2 linked regions of the Homo sapiens genome follow. The protein of the gene in region 2 purifies or fractionates together with the protein of the main gene of each other region. This does not show direct contact. Each region holds a gene or a part of one and is shown on either strand. Other genes may lie near its edges.

What was found.
Region 1: the proteins of RIOX2 (region 2) and TXNL1 fractionate together in Homo sapiens (co-fractionation; one large-scale study listed by BioGRID). This does not show direct contact.

The regions. Positions count from the first base shown.
Region 1 is NC_000018.10:56,625,081-56,628,736, forward strand, and holds part of TXNL1 (thioredoxin-like protein 1), read right to left. Parts: intron 1,378-3,656; coding exon 1,281-1,377; intron 1,187-1,280; exon of another isoform or gene 1,082-1,186; intron 1-1,081. UniProt on the Homo sapiens protein: Active thioredoxin with a redox potential of about -250 mV.
Region 2 is NC_000003.12:97,944,809-97,948,464, forward strand, and holds part of RIOX2 (ribosomal oxygenase 2), read right to left. Parts: intron 2,642-3,656; coding exon 2,553-2,641; intron 1,080-2,552; coding exon 990-1,079; intron 535-989; coding exon 376-534; 3' UTR 1-375. UniProt on the Homo sapiens protein: Oxygenase that can act as both a histone lysine demethylase and a ribosomal histidine hydroxylase. Is involved in the demethylation of trimethylated 'Lys-9' on histone H3 (H3K9me3), leading to an increase in ribosomal RNA expression.

The DNA of each region.
Region 1 (3,656 bases), on a different chromosome or scaffold from region 2:
TTCATGACAAGTATAAAGGAAACAGTAAAGCAAATATGGCACCTTATATATTCAAATATTATGAAAGTCACTACTATACTTTTTAAAGAAAAAGAACATAAAGATAACACAGGAATGTCTTCTCAAAGCCTCTAGGTGAAAAAACTATGACCTTTCAGGAAAGTGCTGCCCAAAACAATGGATATGTAGCACATGTGAGCTACACATGCAATTGTAAATTTTCTATTATCTATATTAAAAAAGCAAAATAAGTAAAATCAAGTTTAATATTACAGGAAATCTAATATATCCATTTTCAATCTAATCAACATAAAAAGATAATGCAATATTTTACATTTTTTATACTGTCTTTAAAATCTGATCTGTATTTTATACTTTCCGTACATATCAATATGAATTTGTCACAGTTAAAGTGCTCAGTAACCACACATAGCCAGTGGTTACAATACCTGACAGAACAGCTCCAGGAGAAAAGCATTTTCATTCTAGAAATAGTGATTAAATCAGGGGCCAATGATATAGTGCAATAACATGCAACTAAGTGCTGAAACATAAATGTGTGTAATGTAGGGTTTTCAACAAACCCCCAAAGTAACTACACACTACATAATATTCTAAAATTTTTTCCACACTCAGAAATTTAACAAAGATAAAGCTGCAGAGCTATAGAGTTGTTCCTTAGTTAGAACTAAAGACTCTACTTTTTAGTATTGGAAGGAGCTTTCCAATTTTTTTTTCCCTTAACAATTCCCCACATTTCTGCATATACAAATACAGAACTGCCACATACCATTCCAACTAAATAATCAGGGCAATTCACCTACAACACTGTGGCTCAATCAACAATAATCACCATTTTAAAGTTTCTGCTCAGTGTGTCCATTTGGAGATAAGATAACAAACTGATCAATTCAAACTACAACCAAGAACTCCTTGCCACTGCTATATAATGCCAATACCTCGGGGGTAGAAGATATAATTCTAGGTTTGCAAAACATAAGGAAATGTAATACACAGAACTGCTAGGTGACCTATTAACAACATCGTATTAATTTTATATCAGAAGGTGATTAATACAAACCTGAAGCAATTAATAATGTGCTACTCTTCTTAACTAATGCAGCCATAATGACATCTGTAATAATGACATCAACATAACATCTTCCTATCTTCAAAGGAATAAGTACTATGTGCATCAAGAGATAAATGAAGAATATTAATGTTGGATTTCAAATTTATTCAAAAGTAAATTAAAAAGAAAAAAGATTCCTTTCCCTTACCTGACACTGATGTACATCGACTTCCAAGAAAACAGCCTGTGGATATTTATTACTCATAGAACTGAATGCTGGGGCAATCCTCAAACATGGCCCACACCTGTTAGAAAAGGAAAATTAAGTAAAATAACACTAAAGATTGTAATTCTAAAGCACTCGTCAATTAAACATAAAATAGAACAAACACTGATACTGCTGGCTTTTGACTCTCTGTTTTTTTTGTTTTGTTTTGTTTTTTGCTTTAGACAGAGTCTCACTCTGTCGGCCAGAGTGGTACTCCAGGCGCCCACCACCACGCCCAGCTAATTTTTGTATTTTTAGTAGAGACATGGTTTCACTGGGTTGGCCAGGCTGGTCTCGAACTCCTGACCTTAGGTGATCCACCTGCCTTGGCCCCTCCCAAAGTGCTGGGATTACAGGCGTGAGCCACCAAGCCGGTCTTTTTTTTTTTTTTTTTTTTTTTTGGAGACAAGGTCTCATTCTATAACCCAGGCCAGAGTACAGTGGCATGATCATGGCTCACTGCAGTCCCAATCTTCCAGGCTCAAGCAATCCTCCCACCTCAGCCTTCCAAGTAGCTGCAACTACAGGTGCATGCCACCACACCCAGCTACCAAGCTACATTTTTTTTTTTTTTGAGAAGCAGGGTCTCACTATATTGCCCAGGCTGGTCTCAAACTCCTGGGTTCAAGTGATCCTCCTGCCTTGGGCCTCCCAAAGTGCAGACATTACAGGCATGAACCATAACCCTAGGCCTGATTCTCTGGTCTATTTGAGTAAGTTATTTACATATACTTGTATCAATACTATACTGTCTTAATGAGCCCAGATGTTACATTTAGTCTTCATAACTAATAGTGTTAAGTCTTCTAGCTTTGTTCTCACTGAGAGAAATTAAAGAAAACCTAAATAAATGGAGGAATTTACTCTGCTTATGAATTTGAAACTCAATATTGCCAAGATACCAATTTTACTCAATTTGATCTTTACAACTGATGTAAGATCTCAGCAGGTTTTCTTGTAGAAATTAACAAATTTCCATTCTAAAAATTATAGAGAAATGCCAAGGACAGCCCAAGTCGTTTTGAGGTTCTAATCTGAAAAAATTATATTATCAGATCTTAAGAACTATCATAAACCTTTATTAAGAGAATATAGTACTTGTACAAGAATAAGCAAAATGATCAAATCAGTTTTCCTTTGAAAGAAGAGTCTAGAAACAGACCCATCTCACATACAGTACTCTGATGTCTGAAAAACTTGATGTAGCATTGCAGTGGGAAAAGGATGGTCTTTTCAATAAATACTGCTAGATCAACTATATACTCATACAGGAAAAGAAATGAATCTCAACACACCATACACAAAAACCAATTCCAGATGGGTTGTAGATCTAAATGTAAAAGGTGAAACAAGGAGGGTTTTAGGAAAAAATACAGGAAGACACTTTCAAAACCTCAAACTAAGCAATGATTTCTTATACAAAACACAAGAAGTACTAAAAAAAAAAAAAGGTTTGACAGACTGGACTATATTTGATAAACTGGAAGATTAAAACCTTTTATTCATCAAAAAATGTCTTTAAGAGACTAGGAAAAAGTATTTGCAAAACATATCAAACAAAGGACTTATACTTCTAATACGTAAAGAACTCCTACAAAACAAGGAGAAGACTGAAACCCAAAAGAAAAAGAATGAACCCTTGAATAGGTACTTGACAAATGAGATTATCCAAACAGTCAATAAATAAAGTCAAAAACTTTCTATAAAGCAGGAAAGATGTTCTACTTCATTAGTCATCAGGGATACCCGGGAAATGCAGATTAAAACCAACTCAGCAAAAATAGCTACAAGAAGAATTAAGTATTGTCAAGAATGCAGAGCAACTAAACTTTTATATACTGTGAGAGTGCAAGCTGGTATTAACCATTTTGGAGGGAAAAAAACCAAACTGCTAAAATACACCAACCCATCAAAATTCCTGGGGAATACATCTAAGACACATGTTCACCTTAGAACATTTGAAAAAGTATTATTAGTAATAGTTCTAAGAGTCAAAAATCAGAAACAATTAAATTCTTATCAACAAAAGAATGGGTAAGCTAATTATAGTTATACAATGAAATACTACACAATAATGAAAATAACTGGTATAAAACCTCTTGCAAAAACATGGATGAACCTCACAAATAACATTGAGGAAAGAAAGCAACTACTAGCATATACTATATGACTACATACAGTTCAAATACAGACAAAACCAATCAATGGTATCAGAAATCAAGACAATGGTTACCTTAGTGAGTTACTGATAGAATAAGACTTCTGGAGGCTAGCAATGTTTTGTTTGTCTGGAAGCTGATTAAATAGGTGTGTTCA
Region 2 (3,656 bases):
TTTTAATTGTTTGAAATTTTTCTAGAGCCAAAGAAGCTCTTTAAAGAAGTTGTTTCTTCCAAAGAACAAAGCCAGGTTAATGACATTCAATTCTAAATGATACATTGGAATTGTGCCTTTTCTACCACACTGGATTAAATAAACTTGTCAAAATATGGTTTTGTCATTTTCTGAGACACTTGGTAATTTGCTGTTCTTTCTTTCATGTGCCCGTTAGTACATTTGGCCAACTGACCACCTGTAACAGGGAGGTCTCATGTTTGTTAGTAGATACGCAGGTAAGGAAACTTGAATTCATCCTCTCCTCGGCTCAGGTCTTTGCTTTTCTTTTAATATATGCATATAAAATAGTAGGCATTTGATTCTGCAAAGGCACTAGACTACTTGAATTAAACATTCTGTCCAGAGGGATAATACCAGGCTTTCCTTTTCCTCATCTGTAGTAAGTTTCAGGTCCTTGACAGAAATAGCTGGACTATTCCAAATTTGCTTCAGTGCATCCAAATGTGACAAAGGGAAGCGAAGTCCATGAAACTGAAAGGATAAATTTATTTGTCAAAATATATGTATACTACTTATGTCATTGAAGTAGCATTTTCCTGTAAATTTATTCTCCATACATCATTATTTTTGATACCCCTCATGAGTATTTTAGACACACTACAATTAGATAACATAAAAGATGCCAACTTCTATATAAAAGGCATCCTAATTTATGTAGTAAGTGATATTAGTAATTTGAAATGTTTTACATTATACCATTCCTATAAGGCTACAGGTCCCAGCTAGTATGTCTTAAAACTGGTGTGCATGTATCACAGAAATGTCTGACTTAATCATCCCCATGCAGGAGCTCTGTGAGTAGTGCAAAATGGTTAAGTCCACAGTGCAGCCATAAAAAGCATATTACCTGTAAATCAAAAATAATCAATTCTTCCCAACCACCACCCAAGTCACAGGATAGGCATTTGTTTTCAGTTGAAACAAACCTCTGTTTCCTCCTCATTTCCCATCATGTGTGTCTCTCTACTATTCTTTAAGGAATGATAGATGTACACCATCTTTTCTTGAGCTTCATCCTTTGGGGAAAAAATAAATGCATTAGGCCATCAACAACACAACACTGAAGGTGTCAGTACTAGGAAGGTTTTCCAATAGGTCAACACCAAAAAAAATTTCAAAAGCCTTGGTGCTCAAGTGAAATTTATTGAATACTGTAAAGAATCCTTTTGGCAAAAAGTGACGGGTGTGTGCATCCACACAATGTCTATACTTCATTAGTCACCACAGGTTACTATTTGTATGTGGCAATTAATGGGCATTCTAAGTTGTTAAAACAGCTGGAGTGCTACCTGGAAGAGCATCTTCAGGATTTAATGAAAAAGCAGTGATTTATGTATCAACTTATCAATGAAATCCTCAGTTTTTTTAATCATACCTGCACTATCTTTTTTGAATAAAAAAATCTGACATTTCTAGGTATAAACTGACAATTTATAATCATGAAGTCATTAACTCCTGAGAAATACCAGCTGTGTGATCGATAAAAAACTCCATTTCAATTACACTACCCTCCCAAATGGTCCCTATCTCCCTTCACTCCCCATGTTACACAGTGCAGTTTATTGTCTCTTCCAGAGCCTTTAGTCATTCTTTGTCACCTCTTAGATAAGGGCAAAAAAATCTTAGCCTAGCGTACAATGTCTCAAACTGACTGGTTATCAGAATCACTATTTTTTTTTTAGACAGGGATGTAGGAATGTGTACTTTTGAGGATGTATATATATATATATATATATCTATTCATGTATATTCATATATATATTCCAACTCTGGCCCTGACGGCTGGAACAATCTGGTTATCGAGACATGTTGAGTGCCCCTCTCATCCCCCTTGATCATTCATGGGATAGCTCCTTAGAGAGCTGATTAGGAGGAATGAGGTGGAGCCATATGGTATGAGATCGTTCCAAGGTCTTTAGGACTGTACAGGGAGCTCTATCAAAACATAAATCCAAAGGCTCCAAGACCAGATGAAACCCAGGAATTTATAATTTTAAAAAGCTTTCCAATTGACTCCATGATCAGTTAGCCAGTTTGGGGAATCACTGGGCTAGGAAGCAAAATTACAGAATATATACTTTGTTCTCCATAATCTACAGGATAGAGTTTAAGGAGATGCAACAATATCCACAAAACCACATAGAAATATAGATCTGCACAGTGTGGAGGACTGGGGCTGAGAAACTCAGGAATGAGGTCTGTGGCTGTCCAAGCAAGAACAGTAAGGCCCGAAGTAGGATGAGAAGCAAAGACCAGACATTAATCACCACATAAAGGGGATGAAGGAAGGTTCTGTGAGGATGAGGGCAAGAAAATATGGAATTGGAACTGTGAGATTTGGTCATCATCTGACCTGAAGAAATGGCATTAAACTGAATGCAGGTGGATTCCTAAAGAAGGGCAGAGACCAGTGGTTAATCTAATAACCTGAGGCCTCTGATGAAAAACACCCTGAGAAGACAGGAAATCTCCTCCTCTTGGATACTCACAGATTGATCTTGATCCGGCAGTACTGTGAGGACAATGTGGTCTTTAAACTGCAGTCTCACTACACTGTCCAGCCTCGGTAACTTTCCACCTAGAAAACCCCAAAGAGAGAAAGCCGACCTTCAAAAAAGGAAACAGGCAGATTCAAACTTGCTTATACATACACATAGGAAACACATTTACTAACAATTTACAGGTGAATCCAAACATGGCATACACTCCAACTGAAGAATTTGCTTACCCCAACATTGTACTGATATTATAGTTCACATCATTATGCAGCTCATTCTTACAGTGAAGACAGACATAGATAAATAATGTAAGTTTATAAGTACAATAAATAGACAAAAATAATACCATCGAAGTACAGTGGCTATCATAGCACATAAGGCTGTGGTGCTTTCTGCACAGAACACTCACTCCTCCAGGTTCTGTCCTCTACAAGCTTCTCGCTCAACATATGGACTCTGGAAGTACTACCTGAGTTCAAAATTGCACTACTCCACCAATTATTAGGTGTGTGACCCTGGTCAATTATTCAGTCTATGTAAGTCAAGAATAGTATCCTATAAAAGCCATCTAATAAAGTCCACAGAAAATTTTTTTTTTCCAAATTGGATTTAACTTAGTGGAACAATACCCAATAAAAACAGACTAGCCTTACAGGGTCATCTGCGTGGGGAAGGAGTCGTGAGGGATCATCACTTTATTGAGTATAATGCCTAAGATAAGGAAAACACTGAAGTAGTCTGGGCCATAAGCTGGTGCATAAGCAAACTGTTCTGCTAAAGATTAAACCATGTGCTTGTAAAACATTTGCTATTTTGAATAGATACAATCAAAAACAAATTCTAAGCTTCCTCCAAAGACTATGATAAAAATGTATATAGAATCAGTGTTGGAAGGGACCTTATAGATTATCTATCTCAGTGGTTCTCTCTTGGTCATAATTAAGAGTTTTATTAAAGTTAGTAAAAAATACTCTTTTCACTCAACCCTGAGAAAGAACAGCAGCCAAAAAGCTGGCCTGGCACTCACAGCTAGGTCTTTGTGTTCTCCTGTTGAACACAGGCAATTCCACAGAATGCTAACATCAGAGATCACTG